2 separate regions of the Homo sapiens genome follow, and region 2 is linked to region 1. Evidence: fine-mapped expression QTL. A gene starts in region 1. The other region holds a variant in brackets. All regions are shown on one strand. Distances are between the middles of the regions. Region 1 holds the start of FBXO45 (F-box protein 45). Region 2 overlaps FBXO45 (F-box protein 45).

The links.
Region 2: its variant is fine-mapped to the expression of FBXO45 in skeletal muscle (GTEx, PIP above 0.99). The same link has a PIP of 0.9 or more in cerebellar hemisphere and cerebellum.

Annotation. Positions count from the first base shown.
Region 1 is chr3:196,563,192-196,575,261 of GRCh38, reverse strand. It overlaps FBXO45 (F-box protein 45), which reads right to left and starts at 6,602. Exons shown (of 3, transcript NM_001105573.2): 1 at 5,960-6,602. The coding sequence starts at 6,277. It overlaps WDR53 (WD repeat domain 53), which reads left to right and starts at 6,708. Exons shown (of 4, transcript NM_182627.3): 1 at 6,708-6,743; 2 at 7,955-8,385. RefSeq lists enhancers at 4,253-4,800, 4,801-5,349, 7,367-8,566, 10,937-12,070 and silencers at 5,690-5,984, 6,106-6,645.
Region 2 is chr3:196,585,528-196,597,597 of GRCh38, reverse strand. FBXO45 (F-box protein 45) reads right to left here. Exons shown (of 3, transcript NM_001105573.2): 3 at 8,539-12,070. Among named protein-coding and RNA genes, the nearest start is that of FBXO45, 23 kb to the right of the region's middle. The variant A/G (reference allele first, on the strand shown) is at 7,161.

The sequences.
Region 1 (12,070 bases):
CTGGTCTCAAACTCCTGACCTCAGGTGATCCGCCTGCCTTGGCCTCCGCAAGTGCTGGGATTACAGGCGTGAGCCACCACGCCCGGCCCTCTCTTCCTCAAACTTCTATGACATCTTCCTATTTCCCTGAACTGATCCTGTATCATTTCCTTTTTTGGTGACCACCCTTCCTCTGCCCCAACCAAATTCTCCAAACTCAGTCCTCAACTCTCTATCTGAATTATTTCCAAACCTGTCTTTCTAAAACAGCACCTTTACTACATATCTCATCCCAGTTCTATAACCTCTGGTAGTTCCATACTTAGTAGCATCACCAACTGCAAATTCTTCTGCCTGGCTTTCACAGCCCTCCAAATCTGATTCTTCCTATTTCCCTTTCTACCTTGATGATGTTCTTCTTGCTGAAAGTATTATATGTGCTTTCTTCTCCCACACATTCTCTAAGATCACCTCTATTAAGCTATTCTTAACCAGGGCCACCCAATTCCCTTGATGTCTCTCTCTGCCGGGTGCTTGCCCACCACTTTCTGTGCCACGTAACAATTTAGCAGCTCTTATTTTCTAACACACTTTTAACCACTGAGTCTAGTACAAAATAACTTGCAAAAAAAATCTAATCTAATCTAAATTGATCACACCTCAGTAGGAAATAGAGGACAGAAGAACATGTCAAGCAACACGATGATAATGAAATCCGCAAAATCGAGCTGAGAGTAAACCACCTTGTTTCCTCAACAAATAAGGTGGGAGGTTGGGGAGATGGTGAGTGAATATGTAGACTAAAATAGCCTTAAGAGACATATCAACCTTTGCCATGGGACCCTTATATAGATCTTGATTATATAAAATATAACTTTAAAATGCAACATTTAACATTTATGAGACAACTGGCAATTTGAACACTGCATTTTTGATATTAAGGAATTAATGTACATTTATATTTAGATGTGATAACCATATTGTGATTACATTAAGTGTCTTTACTTTTTAGAAACAGATACTGGAAACTTCATATGAAATGGGAAAATAGGCCGGGCATGGTGGCTCACACCTATAATCCCAGCACTTCAGGAGGCCGAGGCAGGCGGATCACGAGGTCAAGAAATCGAGACCGTCCTGGCCAACATGGTGAAAGCCTGTCTCTACTAAAAATACAAAAATTAGCTGGACGTAGTGGCAGGCTCCTGTAATCCAAGCTACTTGGGAGGCTGAGGCAGAATCACTTGAACCCAGGAAGCAGAGGTTGCAGTGAGCTGAAATTGTGCCACTGCGCTCCAGCCTGGGCAACAGAGCAAGACTCTGTCTCAAAAAAAAAAAAAAAAAGGAAAATAAAGACCAAATTAATAAATTAAAAACAACCCATAGCCTCACATTCCCATGCACAACCTGAATTTTGTTATGGCAAAAGCAGCATGAAGACCTAGCTTAAAATCTAAGTCTGAACTTTAGAGAATTCTCATCAGATGCCAAGTATGACTTAAATAATTAATGCTACGGGGTGATATGTAAAATATGAACTTAAAAAAAAAACAACTGAACAGATTAATAAACTCCACTTTCCTGTTCTATGCTATCCCTAAACCTTTTCCTATCATTCTCTGTTATCCAGGCTCCTGGGAAAATCCATTTGACACATCCATCTTCCTCATCCCATTCACCCAGTCAGCTGTCTACCTATGTATATTGTTTTCTACGACAGCTCTCCAGCCATCCCCTTCTCTCCTCGATGTACCTGTTCCAGTCTTAAGTATCTCTGGTATAGGCACTAACCGCTGCCCTCTCCAACTCATCTATGGCCTAGTCTTTTTGAAGTAGAGCCTTTGTCACTCTGCTGTTCAAACTTCTATGGTTTACAACTGTAGTACAAAACCCAAACTATAGACTGAAGGCTATATTTCAAAGCCCTCCATGATATATCTAGTCCCATAATATAGCTTTATAATATTTCCCACTACTTCCTTTCATTCAATCTAACTATATTATTTTATATCTTTAGCGCAGATCTCTCCTCTAAGCTCCAACCTCCAACAGCTGCCTATTGGAAATCTCTGTCTCAAAAATACTGTAAATGCTGCTCTCCCAAAACTGAACTCACTGCCATTTCTTCGAAACCTAGCCCACCAGCCTGGGCAACATAATGAGACATCTCTACAAAAAAAAATAATAATAAAAATTAGCTGGGCATGGTGGCACATGCCTGTAGTCCCAGCCACACAGAAGGCTGAAGTGGGAGGATCGCTTGAGCCCAGGAGTTCAAGGCTGCAGTGAGCTATGATCATTCCACTGCACTCCAGCCAGGGCAACAGAGCAAGACCTCATCTCAAAAAAAAAATCTAGATCAACTGATCTCTACATTATGTGAGCCAAATACTAGGAGTCATCCTTACCACTTCCCTCTTCCTCATCCCTATTTCAAATCTATTGCCAATTCTATAGATTTTACTTACTAAATCTGCCCATTTCTATCTCCTCCACTACCTATTTCCTAATTGATCTACCATATTTCTAAGGTCCTCTTCCAACCAACAATTTAGTTCTCCATACTAAAGTCAGAAATAATCTCTTAAAATGCAAAATAATCATATCACCAATCCCCACACCTCAAATCCTTCTTGCTTACAACTCAAAATGGCTTCCCTACGCTTTGGTCCCAGTCCACTTCTTCCATCTTATCTCAAACCAGCATCACCTTTGCTCTCTGTGCTCCAGCCACATTGACATATTTTCCATCCCTCACACTCATAAGGTTCCCTCCTGGAAGGCTGTTCTCTCTCCCCTTTGCCTACTTATCATCCTTCAGGTCTCAGTACATGGATCTGAGAAAGCCTTCCCTCACCTCTCCACCAGGTTAAATCCTCCACTACTGACAATCAGAGCACTAGGTATTTTTCCTTCATACTACTTACCAGATGCGGTTTTACATCTGTGTGATTATTTGATTAATATCCATTTCCCCTACTAGACTGTAAGCTCCATAAGGCAAGACATCCATTAAGAGACTGTGTTTGTTTTATTTGCCATTGCATCTGCAAATGAGCATAGTGCCTGGCACTCATTTTTTTAAATAAAAATATATGTTGTACAAACCCTTTACTTTCCTCTTGTCCTGCTTCTGCTCAGAGTACTTCCTCTTCCTAAAATACTAAACTCCTCCTCATCTTTAAAATTCAGCTCAAATATAAGCTCAACCTCAAATCTCCTCCAATCCTCCACTCAGTTTGTAAATTCCTCCTTTCACTGAACTTCTAGTATACTTTTTTATGTCTGTAACAGTAAGGAGCAATTTCTACCACACATTAGCAGTTCTTTCTATACATTTTTCTCTCCTCTACTAGACTGAAAGATTTCCTACTAGACTATTTGACTCCTTTTGAATTAATCTTTTATCCTCAAAATATTCAAGGGAAGTCCTACAATGTGTGAATGAACAGTGATTGGTACAAGTCTACAACATCTATAATGCACATAGCAGAAAAGCAAAGTATTAAAAACCTCAGAAACCTAAAATATCTCTGGAAGGATACAAAAGAAAAAGTAAGACAGGTTGCATACATGGAGAGGAACCGGGTAGCTGAGCGACAAGGATGAAAGGAAAACATTTTGCTTGATATCATTTTGCTTCTATTGAAGCTTGACTCACACGAACACATTATCTATTACATATTATAATATGAATCTTGAATCATGTGAACATTTCTATTACAAGTCAATTATCAAAACAACAACTCCTAATTTAGGCTGGGTGCAGTGGCTAATGCCTGTAACCCCAGCACTTTGGGAGGCTGAGGCAAGAAGATCGCTTGAGTCCAGGAGTTTGAGACCAGCTTAGGCAACAAGGTGAGACCCCGTGTCTCTAAAAAATAAAAAATTAGCCAGTGTGGTGGCACATGACTGAAGTGCCAGCTACTCGGGAGGCTAAGCTAAGGAGGATCCCTTGAGCTCAGGAGGTCGAGGATGCAGTGAGCTATGATTGTGCCACTGCACTGCAGCCTGGGCGACAGAGTTTTGTTGTTTTGTTGTCTCAAAAACAACAACAAAAACTCCTAGTTTAAAATAAGTAAAAACAATAAACTTTACAGAAAAATAAAAACTAAATAAAATTTATGAAACCGACACATTTATCAAAGTAGGACAAAATTCCAATCGTCTGTACTCACCTATATAAATTACAACCAGTATCCACTGAATAGCCACCACGCACAAACAGTCCTAGTAAATTATTGTTATTTCGCTTAATAGAAAAACAACTTGAGGCCGGGCGCATGAGCTCACGCCTGTAATCCCAGCACTTTGGGAGGCCAAGGCGACGGATCACGAGGTCAGGAGATTGAGACCATGCTGGTTAACACGGTGAAACCCTGTCTCTACTGAAAGTACAAAAAATTAGCCGGGCGTGGTGGCGGGCGCCTGTAATCCCAGCTACTCAGGAGGCTGAGGCAGGAGAATGGCGTGAACCCGGGAGGCGGAGGTTGCAGTGAGCTGAGATCCCGCCACTGCACTCCAGCCTGGGTGACAGAGCGAGACTCCGTCTCAAAAAAAAAAAAAAAAAGAAAAAAGAAAAGAGAAACAACTTGATAGTTTACATATTTAATGGCAATGTTCCCTATCTTCTATAACTAAAACCGGTTTTACTACATAAGTATAAATTTTACATGCTTCACATGAAAAAAAAATTTTTACTTCTTACTCCGACCCCTGTTGGCAAGCTAGCATTAAAAAGGGGGTGTTATCGCGCGGTGGCTCACGCCTCTAATCCCAGCACTCTGGGAGGCCGAGGAGGGCGGATCACCTGAGGTCGGGAGTTCGAGGCCAGCCTAACCAACAAGAAGAAACCACAACTCTACTAAAAATACAAAATTAGCCGGGCATGGTGGCGCATGCCTGTAATCCCAGCTACTCGGGAGGCTGAGGCAAGACAATTGCTTGAACCTGGAAGGCGGAGGTTGCGGTGAGCCGAGATCACGCCATTGCACTCCGTCTCAAAAAAAAAAAAAAAGGGGGGGATGTTATCGTTTTAGTTACTAATGCATTCATTATGTTTAACACATTGCAATCAGACTTTATCTTCTCTTATATATGATCTTGATTGACTGCTATACTGAATAGCTGTTAACCATTCAACTCAACTCAAGACCAAGACCCTTTGTTTATTCGGCCTGAGAGTCCTTTCAGCCGTACCACAACTTGTTCCTTGACATTTTTATTTTGTATATGAAGGCGGGCGGAATATGCAGGAAGGATGCAGCGAAACTGTAATCAGCACGTTAGATGACAAATAGAAAAAGAGAGACACCATCAATGTGGAACTATTAAAAAGTTAGCAAGGAAACAGCCAATAACAGCAGGACAAAGCAGTATGTTAGGTGGTGCCCGTGGACGTTCTATAAAAGCCTGTATCTTGTAAGTGAGCAGGATGACTAGAACTACACTCACTTGTAAGCCTCCAATATAGTGGAGGGAACTAAAGAGAACTTGGGGGAAAATAATGAAAACAAATGGTTAAAAATCAGAGCTTGGAAAAGATGAGATAAACGTGGAGTGAAAGCAAACTAGAAACTTAGAAACTTAGAAACTAAGCCCATGTTAAGGTGGCCGGGATTATTTAATATAATGAAGTCTATCTGGAGGCCGGGGAGAAAAGTAGGATGAGGGCATTAAAAGGTACAAGAGTGGTGGTCTGTCTTTAACGGGGAAAACTGTCAAAAGTTGAATGAGTGAGGCAAACTACCTAGTTGTTTGAAAAGTGGATCACGGAAGTGGGATGGGTTAAGGAGCAGAACTTCGATCCAAAGAAAAGAGAATCTTTATCTTGGGGGGAGGTGAGGAAGATACTGACTGGAGCCGTGGAAAGGCGGGCTGGTGAGGCGAAGCTTCTGACTCAGAAGCTCGGATGAGAAACACCGCGAACGACGCCGGGGAGCGGGACTGGGGGCAGCGGTGTGGCCCGGGGCTCTCTCACCTTGGCCTTGTAGCTGGGCAGGTTGCACAGGATGTCCGTGCGCAGAGCCTCTTCTGCCAGGCTGCGGGCGCACAGGCTCCGCCACACCTCGCTGTTCTCATCGCCGTGCAGGCAGCGGTACCAGTGCTTGCACACCAGGGCGCAGCTCCGCAGCTCGGACAGCTCCAGGTAAGAGAACACCAACTCCAGCACCCGGCTGGGCAGCCGGCCCCCGGCCCCCGCGGCCCCAGAGCCCGAGCCCGCGCCCGCGCCCGCGCCGCCGCCGCTACAGCCAGCGCCGCCCGAGGCTGCCCCAGCCCCCGGGGCCGGCGCCGCCATCGCCTCACCAGCCGGCCCTAGGGCCGCCGCTGCCGCCGCCGCTTCCCGCCGTCTCTGCTCGGAAGGCCAAGCCTCGCCCGGAGACCGGAGCGGCTCGCTCACCGCCCCTGTCAGTGCCAACCGCCGGCGCCTCCACCACTCCCGCCCCTGCCCGGGGGCGTCCGCCGCGCGCCCCGCCTCACTGAGGGCAGACGCACCGGCTGCAGGGGCGTCCTCCGCCCCTCCTCCGCGGCTCAGCGCGGGCGCCGAAACCGCCCGACTCGCCCGGCCTCTCCGCGGCGCGCCAGCGGCTCCGCCATGCGGGTTGAGGGCACGAAGCAAGGGCGCACGCCCAGCTCGTTCGCGGTTCCTCTCGGCCCCGGATGTGACTGTTTGGCTGCGCCGCCTCACGCCTGACGCTCGACGGGATTGGGCGCCGGCGGGTGAGGTTATCACTAGGCGCCGAGGAGGGGAGCGGGAAGCGCAGGTATGAGGCTGGCGCCGGTGGCTTCGATGCTGCTTTCCGGTGACTTCGATGCTGTTTTCCAGTGCTTTTTCCTTTTTCTGGTCTGGTGGCTCCGCGTCTGCTCTCCTGGGCTCCCTTTCCTGTGACGTTTCCCTGTGTCCGTTAGGTCCTTGCTTCAGACTCCAGCTCAACGCATGAAACTTTTCTCTCCTTGCTTGCCGGGTCCTGGCTCCCCAACCTTTTTGTGTAGCTTGGGCAGCGGAGGCCGTCTTTACCTGGTCAGGCCCTCTCGTTCTCCCTAAGTATCGGCACTTAGCGAACGTCTGTCCCTGTGTGCCTTCGCAAAGTAAGGTGGCTGCGACTGAACACCCCCTCGCCCAAACGTTCGAGTGCCATTTGAGCGCTAATTAAGTGCTGCCGTCTTTTGGACAAGATGTGGTCTTTACTGGATCCACCGCTTAGTAAGCAGATGAAGGCAATGTAGTTTTAGTCAATTAAACATTCCAATAGGGAGAATGACGTGGAGGCTATAATTATAGATGGATTCTTGGAAGGGGAAGAATTTCAGCATCCCAGCTTGGGCAACATTGCGAGGCAGTGTCGCTACAAAAAAATAGAAAAATTAGCCGAGGGTGGTGGCGTGCGCCTCTGGTCCCAGCTACTTGGGAGGCTGAGCCCGGGAGGTCGAGGCTGAGGTGAACCGTAATCGCCCTGCTGTGCTCCAGCCTGGGCGACAGAGTGAGCCCCTACCTCACACACACACACACACACACACACACACACACACAAGAATTTCAGCATTATTTGATTATACTACGATTTCCTAGGTGGCCCCAAAGTTTTCCGACAGCCTTTAAAGCATGCTTAGTAAGAGAATAATAATAACCATCATTTGAGCCACGGTGTGAACCAGGCACTGTATACTACGTCATTTACGCAGATTTTTATATACGTAATCCTCAAAACAACTCCATGAGCTGAGTAATTAAAATAATAGGGTTCACAGACTCCCTTGGTCAACTCCAATGTCTTGGAACCTTTATGTAGTAAGAAATCTTTTCTGAAGCTTCTTGCTATGTATAATCCATTTCTTAGTCTCTAGTAAAAGCAAAGGAACGGTGGCTACCTTCCCTACCCTCTGATTCATGGTGTTTGATTATTATTTGCCTGTCCCTTCTCCTCATGTCTTTTTCACCAAGTCCAGTAACCCTAATTCTTTTCATTCTTACCAGTGCCAGCGCCACAGCCCTTCAATCATTTTGGTTGCTATCCAGCTTCTCCACATCAAGTCCAACTTCAGAAACCCCAAGCCTGTAGAGAAAAGTTGACCTGTGCTGACTCTGGTGATGGTGACTGTCTCTCACTAATTTCTTTGAAGTCTTCAAGGATAAGCAGAGTTGATCCATCTGAGAAAGGGATCATGAACTAGACAGAATGAACAGCCTTAGAGGCACAGACTCTTGAACGGGACGGTGGTGGTATGACTAGTGCAGAGTGTTTAGAGATCACTCAGTTTTTAAAGACTGGCCTTTATCGTGTCTCAGTGCAGCCGAGGCAGAGCCTTTGAAGGATGCGATGTTGTCATTCTTACTAATCTAGTCCAGCCGCTGAGGTGACTTTCAACGGCAGACCGTCTCCTGAGCGCCCCAGGTAGAATTTCAAAGTAAGATTACCCTTCTCAACCCCTCCTTTTCTTTTTTACAAATCTTTCACCTGCTCATCACCCACCCCACCAAGCCCCTTCCCCATGTTCAGTACTCTCATTCTGCGCTCTGGCTGATGAGAACTGCCGGCTGTGGCACTTCACCCTTTTAAAAAATGCTCTCGGCCGGGTGCCGTGGCTCACGCCTGGAATCCCAGCACTTTGGGAGGCCGAAGCGGGCGGATCACCTGCAGTCAGGAGTTTGAGACCAGCCTGGCCAACATGGTGAAACCCCATCTCTACCAAACATACAAAAATTAACCGGGCGTGGTGGTGCATGCCTGTAGTTCCAGCTACTCAGGAGGCTGAGGCACAAGAATCGCTTGAACCTGGGAGACGGAGGTTGCAGTGAGCCGAGATTGCACCATTGCACTCCAGCCTGGGCGACGAGAGCGAAACTCTGTCTCAAAAAAAAAAAAAAGAAAAAAATGCTCTCAAAATAACTCACCTGGCAGGGCACAGTGGCTCATGCCTGTAATCCCAGCACTTTGGGAGGCCGAGGTGGGTGGATTGCTTGAGCTCAGGAGTTAGACCAGCTTGGGCAACATGGTGAAATCCTGTCTCTACAAAAAATAAGATAATTAGCTGGGCGTGGTGGTGCATGCCTGTAATCCCAGCTACTTGGGAGACTGAGGTGGGAGGATTACTTGAGCCCCGAAGGTGGAAGTTGCAGTGAGCAGAGATTGGGCCACTACACTCCAGTATGGGTAACAGAGGGAGATACTGTCTCAAAAAAAAAACACAAGAAAAAACTCACCTTTCCCTCACCCACTCTGTGTGATTTCTTTAGGTATTAGAAGGAAGTGATCTATTATCTAATTAAAGTAATTTACAGTAGGATATGATTAACTGCTGTGCTTAACGCTTTAGGCAACTCCATAGGAAAAGAGAAGCTTGTTGACTTGATACGTGAATGTGGGGATGGTGACACTTCACCTCTTTCTGCCAGGCTTTCCAGTTGCAGTCATAGAAAAGCAAGAAACAGTGGCTTGCCAACTCATTTCTGAAAAATTGTTTTGATTTAACCCAACTTTAATTACATTTTTTCCCACTACCCTTCTATCACAGCAATCTGATTAACTTTTTCATAGTGTTCTTTGGTGTGTTTCAAATAATAACAAATCATTTTAGTTTTATAGACTAAGTAAACAATTTTGGAGGCTCTAGTTGAATCGCTGATCAATAGTTTGCATAATAAATCTTGATTGACTAAAATTAATAGCCTCAGAGTTTATGGATTTCTGTTTCTGGGGCTTTCCAAACTCCCCCCTGCCCCCTCACCCCGACTCTCACCCAGGCTGGAGTGCAGTGGCACAATCTCAGTTCACCACTGCAACCTCCACCTCCCAGGTTCAAGCCCTCAGCCTCCCGAGTAGCTGGGATTACAGGCACGTACCACCACACCCTGCTAATTTTTGTATTTTTAGTAGAGACAGGGTTTCTCCATCTTGGCCAGGGTGGTCTTGAACTCCTGACCTCAAGTGATCCGCCCTCCTCAGCCTCCCAAAGTGCTAGGATTGCAGGCGTGAGCCACCACGCCCAGCCTCCCCTGGCCCCTGCCTTTTTTTTTTTTTTAACATTCCCAGTAACAGTTATTTATTTTTCTGACTAGATAAATGATCAGTAAATATTATCTATGTGATTTAGAGAGTAGGAGTTTAGTGTGTAGAGTTTAATAAGATGAAAGTGTTCTTGGGGTCTTGTGAGACTAATAGAACAAGAGTTACTACTGGTTCCACTGTGGAAAAATTTATAGGAACTGTAGTCTTTATAATAATCCCTTTAAGGACAAAATTCGTTTATTGCCTGTCTTCTCACACTTCGGAGCAAAACTTAACTGAATGAACCTTGAAGATTGAGTTAATCTTTTCTAGAAAAGAATTAAATTAGGAAGAAAACCTGCTAAAACTTTTGTCTGTCAGTCAGCATTTATTTGGCTCTCCTGTGGGTAGATTTGTAATGGAGAAACAGGAGCACTAGAAACCTTGCCTCATTCTTGTTTCAGAGAAAACCTAAAATCCCAGCTGGGATCCAAAACCTGTATGCACACAAATATCAGCAAATCTTAATGCTCTAGAGTACAGACTTCCTGACTTCAAAGTTGATTCATCATAGCAAAATTAAAACTATAACTTGGCAAAAAAGTGATCGACATTCTAAAGATTTGAAAGCATTGGCTGGGTGCAGTGGCTCATGCCTGTGATGCCAGCACTTTGAGAGGCTGAGACGGGAGGATCACTTGAGCCCAGGAGTTCAAGAACAGCCTGGGGAATGTGGGGAAACCTCATCTCTACAAAAAAAATACAAAAAATTAGGTGGGTTTGGTGGTGAGAGCCTGTAGTTCCAGCTACTCAGGAGGCTAAGGCGGGAGGATCACTTGAGCCTGGGGAGGTCAAGGCCTGCATGACAGAGCAAGACCCTGTCTCAAAAAAAAAAAAAAAAGAAAAAAGAAAAAAAATTGAAATCGTTAAACAAAATTATTTGTAACTTAAATTGACTTTTCAATACTCAATTCAAATTTGTAGGATAGCATCTTTATCATGAGGTAAGTCAGTATTACAGTTCCTAAGCCTAAATACTATCAGTGCCTTTCGTTTAAAATCTAGGTTTATCTGGAACTTTTGGCAACAGTCTTCGTTACGGCATATTTACCTGCTGCTGTTTCAGTACTTGTCAGCAAAAATCAAACCACCAGGGCTCCCTGTTTTTACCTCCCTCTGAGTCATTTCCTCTCCAATTCTCTCCTTTAAATATTATTGCTTCAGTCTCCAGTTAGTTTCCTCTGTATATTAGTTGAGTGCTTCTGCTTGAAAACAAAAGTTTAATTTTGTTTTTTATTTTGTTATTTTTATGAACATTTCTGTATTTGATTTTGTGATCACGTTTCCGTTACCTTGATTACTAATAGATCAGTGATTTTTTTGCAGTCTAATTAGTGATCGTATGTGTGACTAAAAGTAGGGGGAGGCTGGGTGCGGTGACGCACGCCTATAATCCCAGCACTTTGGGAGGCTGAAGTGGGTGGATCATGTAAGGTCAGAAGTTCAAGACCAGCCTGGCCAACATGGTGAAACCCTGTCTCTACTAAAAATGGAAAAGTTAGCCTGGCGTGGTGGCAGGCGTCTATAATCTCAGCTACTTGGGAGGCTGAGGCAGGAGAATCGCTTAAACATAGGAGGCAGAGGTTGCAGAGAGCTGAGATTGTGCCATTGCACTCCAACCTGGGCGACAGAGCAAGACTCCGTCTCAAAAAAAAAAAAAAGCTTTGTGTTGGGAATGGAAACTTTGGGCAGATTGCCAGATTATTTTAAATGATTTTATCTCTGTACCACTGGGCTAAATTCAAGTATCTTATCTGAAAATAGCACAACAGCTCTGGGGGCTGGCACTCGGGTAAGCTCTCCTTTCGCTTATGAAATGAAAAATTAAATTTGTCCAGGTAGATTTATTTGCTTCCTTTTGTCTTGACCAAGATTAGAGTTGTATAAATTGCCCTGATTTCCTTTTTGCCTTGACCAGCAGGCGGGCACGGCAGGCCGGTATTATGTGGCATTTCCAGTGTGTGTATATCTGGGATTCCTAGAGGATGAGAAATCTAAATTTTACACTGTTGTGTAAGTGCAGGTAGATGATAATATGATTAAAC
Region 2 (12,070 bases), 22 kb before region 1:
CTCATCGTGGGGGTTTCTAAGTGAGGGACTTGGGTGTGATTTCATGACAACTGGTCATGAAATCAGGGGACGCCTATGTTTTTGTGCAGGGAGAGGAGGCCTGCGGGTGCGTAGGTCCTCTTAAGCCCCTCTGGGTTCCATCTTCCTACAAGAGATCCTTTTCAACCAGGCGCAGTGGCTCACGCCTGTAATCCCAGCATTTCGGGAAGCCAAGGCGTGTGGATCACCTGAGGTTGGGAGTTTGAGACCAGCCTGACCAACATGGAGAAAGCCTGTTTCTACTAAAAATACAAAATTAGCTGGGCATGGTGGCGGGCATCTGTAATCCCAGCTACTTGGGAGGCTGAGGCAGGAGAATCGCTTGAACCTGGGAGGCAGAGGTTGCAGTGAGCCGAGATTGCGCCATCGCACTCCAGCCCGGGCAACAACAGCGAAACTCCATCTCAAAAAACAAACAAAAAACCAAGAGAGATCCCTTTCTATCTGTCTCAAAACCCACAGCTCTAAGTGTCACTCTGTGAGAAGCAGAGCATTTCACTTGGGTGTCACGGCAGAGGATTTGAATTCCGTTGCCATCCTTGCCCTAAAATACTTCATTTCACCTCATCACCAAACTCCCTTCCAGGCTGGGACCCTCAGTTCATTTTAGTATTCCAAAAGTAACCAAAATTAAGCTCTGGGTGTGTAGGAAAGGAGTCCAGTGAAAGATATGAACATAATTCCCACAAGAGAGGGAGAAACTTATTACCCTCATTTTTCATGCTTAAAATAAGCAGGCAGTGAGCTGCTGGGTGTGAATGATTTCGTGTCAGCTAAACAAAAAACAGATCACCAAGCTGGTTTTCCTCTGAGTTTCAAACCTCACCATTCTTTAGTCTCTCCCTTAAAACAGAGAAGAGAAGGACGAGGTAAGAAGTACAGTTTCTTCAAGACCCAAAAGACCTGAGCTTTCTCTTCTTGCCCTTGATTTAGCAAACCAGCTCCTGCTCAGACACAGCCCCTGACAGCGCAGGTAGTGTCTGTTGCTTCTCAGGGCAGAGGCTGGGCAAGGCACCACCCTGAGTCTTACACCGAGACGCTGTGCTCCCCCTCTGGGTGGCTGTCTTGCTGTGAGTCTCCAGTACTTGATGGGGTTACCTTGCTCTCCCCTCTGTATCTTTTTTCCTCTTCACTCCTTTCAGCCTCCTTTGTCGTTTTTCTTCTGGGGAGTCCTCAAATGTGCTATTCCTCATATGGCCAAACTTTGGGGGTGGGAGGAAGCATGTTTATTAGTGTCTTCCTGCAGTACCCATTCTCTCTTCTTTATGACTTCCCTCCCCCTCATCCCCCAGCCACAGAGTCGTAGGGCTGAGACCCCAGTGGCATCCTAGGTACCGTGTGAGCCCACTCCCCATCCCATGGCCATAGCTGATTGGACCAGTAGTAGGAATTGGAGTCTATCTGAGACCCCGAGGTGATCTCTTGGATGGAGGGGAGAAGTGTGGGTGGCCATTTTTCACAACGTGGACTATGTAGAAGAGGAAGTTTGGGGAAAGAATGAAGAAATGTCTCGGGAATAAGGAAGAGGTGGTATTCCCAGGCTCCTGATGGCTTTCCATTGCTTTGTCCAACTTCCTCATGAAAAACAAGGCATTCCTGCTATTGATCTCTGGGAGCCAGCCCTGTATCTCTAAAATAAACTTATTTTGCTTGTACTACCTCAGGTTCTGTTGCTTTGAATATTTTTAAATGTTTCCTAAATTTTAAAACATTTCCTATTTTAAAATGTTTCCTATTCTTAATTTTAGAACCAGATGAATGGAATGTTTTATATTTCACCACAATTTTTTTTTTTTTAGTGACTAAAATTGCTTTTCTTCCATGGTTGGCTCCTAATGATACTTACCTATTATAGAACAGTTCAGTAATAATAATGAGAAATACAGTGAATACTTACTACACTCCTGGCACTGTTCTAAGTGGCTCAATGTGCGTTTCATGTAATGCTCACATCACCTTTTAAAGTAAGTAGCACGATTCCCCCCGCCCCCCATTTTACAGATAAGGGAACTGAGGCTTGGAGGGATCAAATGTCCCACCCAGGGTCACAGAACTAGTAAGTGGTAGAACGTGGGTTTGAATTCATGACCCCAGAATCCATGCCCCTAACCACTACACTAAGTACTTTACAAACACTGGGTTACGAATGCAACCTGACAAAGACCTTCCAACAAACCTTAACACCTTAAAACTGTTCCTGGCCTTTCCCATGGTTCCGGCGAACAACCAAACACAAAATCAAAGTTGCCTCCAGAAAGAAATAGAATTGGTAGAGAGAAAAATTAAAAGGTGTGTTTCCTAGGGTTGCCACAGCAAAGTACCACAAAGTTGGTGGCTTCAACGACAAAAATGTATCGTCCCTTGCCGGGCGCAGTGGCTCCCGCCTGTAATCCCAGCACTTTGGGAGGCCGAGGCAGGGGGATCACCTAAGGTCAGGAGTTCAAGACGAGCCTGACCAATATGGTGAAACCGCGTCTCTACTAAAAATACAAAAATTAGCCGGGCATGGTGGTGGGCGCCTGTAACCCCCGCTACTCAGGAGGCTGGGACAGGAGAATTGCTTGAACCCGGGAGGCGGAGCTTGCAGTGAGCCAAGATTGCACTACTGCACTCCAGCCTGGGCGACAGAGCGAGACTCCGTCTCAAAAAAAAAAAAAGAAAAAAGTATCGTCCCACAGTCCTGGAGGCTAGAAGTCTGAGATGAAGGTGTCAGCAGGGCTGGTTTCCTCTGAGGGTGGTGCGGAAGAATCTGCTTCGCGCCGCTGCCCGGTTTCTGTTGGTTTGCTGGCAGTTTTTGGCACTTGGCATCTGCTGGATGGCCCTGATCGCTGCCTTCATCTTCACATGGGATCCTCCCTGTGTGCATGTCTGCGTCTAAATCTCTTTTTCATAAGGATACCAGTTATCTTAAATTAGGGACCCAGTCTTTTCTGGTATGACCTCATCTTAACTAGTAACATCTGAGATGACCCCATTTACAAATAAGGTCACATTCTGCGGTACTGGAGGATTTCAACATATAAATTTTCAAGGGGATGCAACTCAGCCCATGACATTAGGTTTTATTGTTTCTTTCCTGTAGCAATTTTCAATCATTATATCTCCTTTTATCAGAGATAAGAAGTTTGATTTTAAGATGTGACAAACCACAGGTGCAGCTGCTCAGCTTTGGTTAGGCACCCAAATGTCATTGCCACTCCGATATAGGAAGGACCAAAGCACTAATTCCTGAAAGAATCCTGATAAGGACACCTCTTTTTTTTTTTTTTTTTTTTTTTCCTGAGACGGAGTCTCACTGTGTGGCCCAGGCTGGAGTGCAGTGGCACCATCTTGACTCACTGCAACCTCTGCCTCCTGGGTTCAAGCGATTCTCCTGCCTCAGCCTCCCGAGTAGCTGGGATTACAGGCACCCACCACCACACCCAGCTAATTTTTGTATTATTAGTAGAGCTGGGGTTTCACCATGTTCGCCAGCCTGATCTTGAACTCCTGATCTCATAATCTGTCCGCCTTGGCCTCCCAAAGTGCTGGGATGGCAGGCGTGAGCCACCGCACCCGGGCTAGAACCTCTTTTAAATGACAGCCTCACTTTAGCTCACTAAGGGCCATAGAAAGACCCACAGAAGAGACAGTCTTGCCTTAGGTGCTCACTCTGGCACTGCCATCACCTTGCTCTTGGTCTCTAGAGCTAGAGCTCTTTTTTCTCATACAATTTTCCTGGTTATAAACCAGAGATTTTTGCCTGGCACGGTGGCTCACGTCTGTAATCCCTGCACTTTGGGAGGCCCAGGCGGGTGGATCACAAGGTCAGGAGTTCGAGACCAGCCTGACCAACATGGTGAAACCCCGTCTCTACTAAAAATACAAAATTTAGCTGGGCATGGTGGCACTTGCCTGTAATCCCAGCTACTCAAGAGGCTGAGGCAGGAGAGTCGCTTGCAGCCAGGAGGCAAAGGTTCCAGTGAGCCAAGATCGCGCCACTGTATTCCAGCCTAGGCAACAGAGTGAGACTCCGTCTCAAAAAATAAAATAAATAAAATAAAATAAAATAATCAAATCGTAACATAAAATAAACCAGAGATTTTTGCCTCCACTTGAGGCTGCTCAAATGTCATTCCTGAATGGTGGTCTCCTAGTTCAGGGGAGAAGTACCTGGAGACTTAAAAACAAACAAAAGGCTGGGTGCGTTGGCTCACACCTGTAATCCCAGCACTTTGGGAGGCCGAGGGGGGTGGATCACGAGATGAGGAGATTGAGACCATCCTGGTTAACACGGTGAAACCCCGTCTCTATTAAAAATGCAAAAAATTAGCTGGGCGTGGTGGCGGGCGCCTGTAGTCCCAGCTACTTGGGAGGCTGAGGCAGGAGAATGGCGTGAACTCGGGAGGCGGAGCTTGCAGTGAGCCGAGATCGGGCCACTGCACTCCAGCCTGGGAGAGAGTGAGACTCTGTCTCAAAAAAAACCAACAACAAAAACAAACAAACAAAACTCCACTCTACTACTCCATGGAATTTAATTTGCTAGGGCATCTTATTTATTTATTTGAGAAGGAGTTTTGCTCTTGTTGCCCAGGCTGGAGTGCAATGGCTGGATCTCAGCTCACTGCAACCTCCCCCTCCCGAGTTCAAATGATTCTCCTGCCTCAGTCTCCCGAGTAGCTGGGATAACAGGCACGCGCCACCACACCCGGCTAATTTTTGTATTTTTAGTAGAGACGGGGTTTCTCCATGCTGGTCAGGCTGGTCTCGAACTCCCGACCTCAGGTGATCCGCCTGCCTCGGCCTCCCAAAGTGCTGGGATTACAGGCGTGAGCCACCGCGCCCGGCTGCATCTTATCTTTTAAAAGCTTCCCACATATAGGCTATCTTGATTGTGATGGATATATACATACATCAAAGCTTATCAAATTGTGCACTGGTAAATAGGTATAGCTTGTTTGATGTCAGTTATTATCTCAATAAAGCTAATTTAAAGAAATAAAAAACTCCCCAGGTGATTCTAGTGGGCATCCCAAAATGAGAAGCATTGAGCTAGGTCAGCCTCAGCAACAGCCCCAGGAAGGAAGACATCTGCTCCGGAATCGCGTCGTGACCAGCAGCGCCCCCAGGACTTAGACCGCATGAGTCCTGTGCTGTTGATCCAGTGGTCTTGCCTCAAGACCAAAATGATAGAACATTGCTGAGCTTCTCCCAAAATTAAAAAGAGGCACCTAAAAATTTTGAACTGAGGCTGGGCGCGGTGGCTCACGCCTGTAATCCCAGCACTTTGGGAGGCCGAGGCGGGCAGATCACGAGGTCAAGAGATCAAGACCATCCTGGCTAACACGGTGAAACTCCATCTCTCCTAAAAATACAAAAATTAGCCGGGCGTGGTGGCGGGCGCCTGTAATCCCAGCTACTCGGGAGGCTGAGGCAGGAGAATGGCTGGAACCCGGGAGGCGGAGGTTGCAGTGAGCCGAGATCACACCACCGCACTCCAGCCTGGGCGACAGAGCGAGACTCTGTCTCCAAGAAAAAAAAAAAAAATTGAACTGCTAGGATTGTTATTCAGAGGTGTGGGGTATGTAAGGAAAAGAAAAATCCCGAAACAACAAAACACCCCCGCAGCCTTTAGTTGGCAGAGTCACGGTTTAGAAGGCAGTTGGTTGTCCTTTGGGGGTATTGCAGGCCCGCCTCCCTCGCTCTACCCGCTGGGCTGTGGAGCCCGTACGGCCAGTGAGGAACGCGGCACACCAGCAGCTCTCTCATCCAGCTGGCTGCCGATCTCCTTAACTCCAGGCTCACTAGTTCCAACTGCCTTTTCTGTATTTCCACCTCCGATTTAACATGTTCAAAACCGCACTCGTTACCCTCACCCCCCAATCTTTTTTTTTGAGACAGAGTCTCGCTCTGTCACCCAGGCTGGAGTGCAATGGCGCGATCTCGGCTCACTGCAAGCTCCGCCTCCTGGGTTCCCGCCATTCTCCTGCCTCAGCCTCCCGAGTAGCTGGGATTACAGGCACCTGCCACCACAACCGACTAATTTTTGTATTTTTAGTAGAGGCGGGGTTTCACCACGTTGGCCAGGCTGGTCTCGAACTCCTGGCCTCAGGTGATCTGCCCACCTCAGCCTCCCAAAGTGCTGGGATGACAGATGTGAGCCACTGCGCTCGGCCCCTCACCTCCCAATCTATTCCTCCTTTTCAATACCCTTTCTTAATAAGCAGTACCTTATAAATGTCTGCACCAAAAAGCTTCTCACTCTTGACATACAAATGGTGTCCACATGTGTTCCTGCATTCTCTTAAATACATCCCTCCTCCATCTTTAGTCACCTTAGTTTAGGTCCTCATCATTTTCTGCCTAGACCTCCTGACTCCCACCTTTCAGATATTGGTTTTTGTAGCTAATCATGCCCCTGCTGAAAACTTTTGAATGGCTTCCCCCATGAAAAAATAGACAAAACCCAAACTATTTGGTATGGCAATTATAATCCAGACGCAATTTCCCTGTTCCATGCCCTCCCCCACCACTTGTCCAGCATGGTTCCAGACATAGCGGACCTATCTGTGCCTCCGTATCATAGCACGTCCTATCCCACTTGCCTGGAACAGTGGATTTATCCTCATTAGCTCCCACCTACTATCTTCTAAGCTCAGCTTAAACATCGCCCCAGGTTAACTATTCCCTCTCCTATGCCACCCTGGACCTCACCTGTAATTTCGTTAAAGCAGTTACCTCAGTTTCACAGTAGTCTGTTTCCACATTTGCTTTCACAGAAGCTTGTCAGCAACTTCGATTTTTCCTTCTCATCTTTCCATCTCTAGTACCTGGTAAAAGCCTGCTAGATAACGGATGTTAGAAAATAATTTGATGAATGATCTTTCCTGCCTTTTTCATTCTGTCTACATTACCAAGTGGATGACTAGTAGCTGGGTGGGCAGGGAGATCCTTCAAAATTTCAGAAGCTCAACTATGGCCATGTAAAACCTAGAGTGGCCTCCGTGACTCCGTCGGCACTGAAGTTCCTGTAGGCTGTGCTCAGAAGGGTGGATTGCGCTGGGCTTTGCCACCAGTCTCTGCTCAGAGCAGTGTCTTTGCTACCAACATGTCTTTTAGCAAAGTAACCATCTGTCCGTGCT[A/G]TTCTGGGCAATTGGATCATGAACTACATCACTCTTTGGCCTACTGAGGGGTTAGAGATGTCATCAACAACTCTCATTGCAACCTTAAGCCTCCTTTCCTTCCAAGGTGAAGATGACCAACAAGGGGGCACAGATCAATCATATGCTCTTTAAACATGGGTTGGGAATATGAACAAGTTAGCTATATTAAAATAAACAAAGATATCTGGTCTGTTCCCACTACAATATGCCTCTAATGAATCTAACTTGAGACGCTAGAATTTTAATACATTATTTCAGGGAGACTTTCTTAAGGGAGCTATGACCTCAAAACCATTACTTGATTTTATCCCCATTTTATTTATACAGGAAAGGGGGCAGAAATATAACATGGTGTACAAGTATCATATCATATCATAGACAGGACTTGACTTCTCTAATCTTTTCTTAATGTTTTCCTGCCTTAAACAGAAATTAAACACTATCAACAGGGTGACCTAAGGAAACTCCCCAAATGATTCCTACTTCTTGAGCCACTCATCATGAAATCCTACATACAAAAGCTGAATAACAATCTTAAATCTTAAAGGGCTACTTCTTTCAGCAAACTATTATTCTGAAGACTAGAGAACATGTTGCTCTCAACAGTATTTTAGTGAACACATTAAATAAGAAGCAAACAGTTCGAGGGAGGATCCAAAAAAGAAATCAGGACAACAGACTGGTAAAGCTGTCTCTGGCGTCTCTTTCCACTAAACAAAGCGGCAAATACAGAACATTTACACCTATTTTTCTTTTATAAAATTTAAATGCTTTGGGCTGGGCACGGTGGCTCATGCCTGTAATCCCAGCACTTTGGGAGGCCGAGGCACACGGATCACCTGAGGCAGGGGTTGCAATGAGCCGAGAGCACATCAACTGCTCTCCAGCCTGGGTGACAGAGCAAGACTTTGTCTCAAAAAAAAAAAAAAAAAAAAAAAAAAAAAAAAAAAAAAAAAAAAAATTAAAATGCTTTGAACTTTAACATATCAGCCAACTTGTTTAGCAACATCATCAACTGATTCTCTTTTAAGCTTTTGGATCACAGGAGCCGTGTATTCAGCCAGTTCAGGAATAGCATGCCTGTCTCTCATAATTCTTGGCAAACAACTGCATTATCAAACAAATGTCAGCAGGAGGGTGGGGTGGGGGGCGGTAGAGGCAATTGGGAAATAAGACCCTAGTGAATTACTGTTCTCTGTCCACTTTCCATTCTAAACATGGGGAATGTGGATTCTATTATTAAAGCCATGGAATTTATAGGTAAATTCCATCACCACCTCTGGCTATTAAGGCACCCCAATTTTTCTTTCTAACCAATGTGTAAAAAATGTCTTTAAATGTAAGCAATCACAGGTGGTTAATGTTTAACTTTTTATTAAGAAACTAAGGCAAAACAACAGAATTCCAAAAAATAAAGATACAGAATTCTAATTTAAATTCTAAACAAATATAAAAATCAGAGTTTACCAGTATTTTTGAGTAGAGGGGAGTGGCTAAATGCATTCACAGTAATTATTTCTTCCTTACCAGCCTCAAGTTTGCAACCCTTTCCTTCCTGCTTCACTGGGACTAGAACAGAATTTCTCATTCATCTTTTGCTACTATAATTTTTGCTTCTATAGTCTAAAACTTCAGAGGAGCTTTTGTCTTTCTCCGCAGTTCTTTCTCTGTTCCTTCAGCAAATATGTGAGCACCTGCCTATTGGGCTTACATGTTGTGGCACAAAGATGAGTCCGTTAGAGATCCTGTCCCAGTTTAGGGGCGATATGACACCAATAAATAATCAATAAATAATTTTAAACAAGGTATAAATAAATACAGCATGAGTCAACTATAGATATATAAAACTAGGGAAATTTCAAGGAGAGATTACATTCAGCTAGAGAAACTGAGGAATGTTTTTGAGGACAGCATTTGGGCTGGGTGTGGGCTGTTCCTAATAAAGGCTTCCAAGTGGTCCTGATTATCTACCACAGTCCCAATTGTGGAACTGTGGTGGTCTCAATTTCTGGAAAGTAATCTTTTCAATGCTAACCTTTAAAACTCCTTAAATTTCTGGCCTGGCACGGTGGCTCGCGCCTGTAACCCCAGCACTTTGGGAGGCGAGGTGGGTGGTGTTGGCCAGGAGTTCAAGACCAGCCTGGCCAACATGGCATAAACCCCCTCTACTAAAAATACAAAGATTAGGCCCGGGAACAGTGGCTCATGCCTGTAATCCCAGCACTTTGGGAGGCTGAGGTGGGTGGATCACAAGGTCAGGAGTTCGAGACCAGCCTGGCCAACATGGTGAAACCCCGTCTCTATTAAAAATACAAAAATTAGCCAGGCATGGTGGCAGGTGCCTGTAATCCCAGCTACTCGGGAGACTGAGGCAGGAGAATCACTTGAACCCGGGAGGCAAAGGTTGCAGTGAACTGAGATCACACCACCGCACTCCAGCCTGGGCAACAGAGCAAGACTCCGTCTAAAAGAAAAAAGAAAAAAATTAGCCAGGTGTGGTGGCACATGCTACTCGGGAGGCTGAGGCACGAGAATTGCTTGAACCTGGGTGGCAAAGGTTGCAGTGAGTCAAGATCGTGCACTCCAGCCTGCGTGACTCTGTCTCCAAAAAAGAAACACACACACCACTCCCTAAGTTTCTATCTCTTCAAATTACTCACTTCTTCAAAATAACAAAAAAAAATTAATATTAATATGACAATCTACATAGTTTGGGGATTTAAAAGTTAAAGCTGGGTATAGTGGCATACACCTGTAATCCCAGCTACTTGGGAGGCTGAGGCAGGAAGACTGCTTGAGCCCAGGAGTTCAAGACCTGCCTAGGCAGTAGAGTGAAACCCTGTCTCCAAAAACAAACAAAAGTTCATTATACAGTAGTAGTTTCTTTATGGTTTAGGGCTCTGCTATTTTTGAAACTCTTTCTCCAGTCAAATAATTCTAAAAGGCAGAAAATGCCTAATCACTGAACAATGATTTTAAATATTAACTGGGTAAATCTTACTTTCTTTTGGTGTCTTATTGAATCCATATCTACACTTTATGTGAATGAGGGAGATGAAATAAATGGCTTAACATTTAAGTCAAATAATGAGAAAATAATGGCAACTATGAAATGACATTAACCACAAATTCCTTGTATGAAAAGATTTAATGAATTATGAGCCATTGATCATTACAAACTTTAAGCCTTAATATTTCTTCTTTCCTATGTAAAACCAGGTAATTAAAACAGCCTGTCTCAGTATGACAGAAGACCATAGTAGGGATAATAGTAACGTCTGCTTCCACATCTGCATGCTTCGTTAACCAACCAAAGAAAGTGCTCCAGGTTTCCCAAGTCAACAAAGTATACTCAGTTACACTTTCCCTGATCATACTATGAATTGAAACAGAACACTCCTTTGACTTTTAATAGCACTTTTCATCCACGGCACAAGCACTTTCCCATTATTTTCTCCTTTACCCTCAATATCCTTGTGAGGTAGTGAAGGGAGGGAGCAAGGATTTTTTTTTTTCTATTTTGCAGATGAGAAAACTCAAGGTGAATTTTACAACAGTGGTTCTCAACCTTGGCAGCATATTGAAATGACCAGAAAGTTTTTAAAAATCCTTATGACCAGCTCATATTCCAGACCAACATCAGAATCTTGGCATACGGAACCCAAGCATCGATGTGTCTTCCAACATTCCAAAGTGACTACAAAGTGTATACAGCCAACACTGAGAACCACTGGTTTGAATGATTTACACTCAATCTTCAGGCGCAACTGTCTTCTACCGAAATGCTCTCCTCAGCACCAATGACAAAGATATTCCATCTCCTTGAGCACTGCAGCAGTTTAAGATTTTGTAGAGCTACTACTGGGTTTTAGTGACAAATTTACGTAAATGAAGGCCCTCATGACCCAGATGCTCATGCTGCTCACTTCAATTGCATATGATTTGCGAATGGGACATTCGGGAATTTAAATCTTTGAGATAAGAATGGCTTGTTGTTAAATATTGAGGCAATTATTTCATTCTAGGTCCAATACGCAATAACCATGTGTTTCGGTTTTCCACTCAGCACCTTCAAAACTGTTGCAAATGAATGTTTACTAACAAGACAAAAGAGACAATTATAAACCAAACTCTCAACAAAATTCGGAATGGCCACATCACAACCTGAAAAAGAAACAAGTACTTAAAGGACTTGATCACTTCCTAACAAGTCCATCTTCAACCTGAACCACTTCTCTTGTTTAATCAAATTTTAAACTTTGCCGAACTGAGTTGTTCTACACCAAGAAAAATCAATTTCTATACCACCTACATTCTCTAATACATTTAACATATAATTTCACTCAATACAAGGAGGTTTCTTCTTAACCTGGACATCGAAAAGAATCTTTAACAGATTTCATCTTTTCAAGCAATGTATCAAATACACAATAAATACTTGTAAACTTTTCAGGTGGCAACAATAAATCTTTGTTCTATGGCTGAAATCCCTTGCTTCACAGGAGTATTGACAATCTTAACTCCCAAGGAGCAATCCAAGAATCCCGGCCAGCTGCTGGGTGTCCCTAATCAGATTTAAAACAAAACATACATACAGCAAGAACTCAGAAGTACAAAGATTTCGCTCGCTTTTGTCAATTCTTATGTATCTAAAACCATACAATTTATACTTTCATACAGAAAGATGTCTGTTTCTTTTCTAACAAAAGAAAAACTCTCAGCTCATGTGGGTTGGATTATTAATTCAAAAGCATTTTAGTGATGAGAAACAAGATTTGTAAGTCAAAATAGGAGTTAATGTTAAACTCTTCTACAACGAAACCTTCAAATATTGCCAACCTGAAGTTTTCAGCACAAGGTGTTGTATTTCAAGTCCCATGGGGGCAATT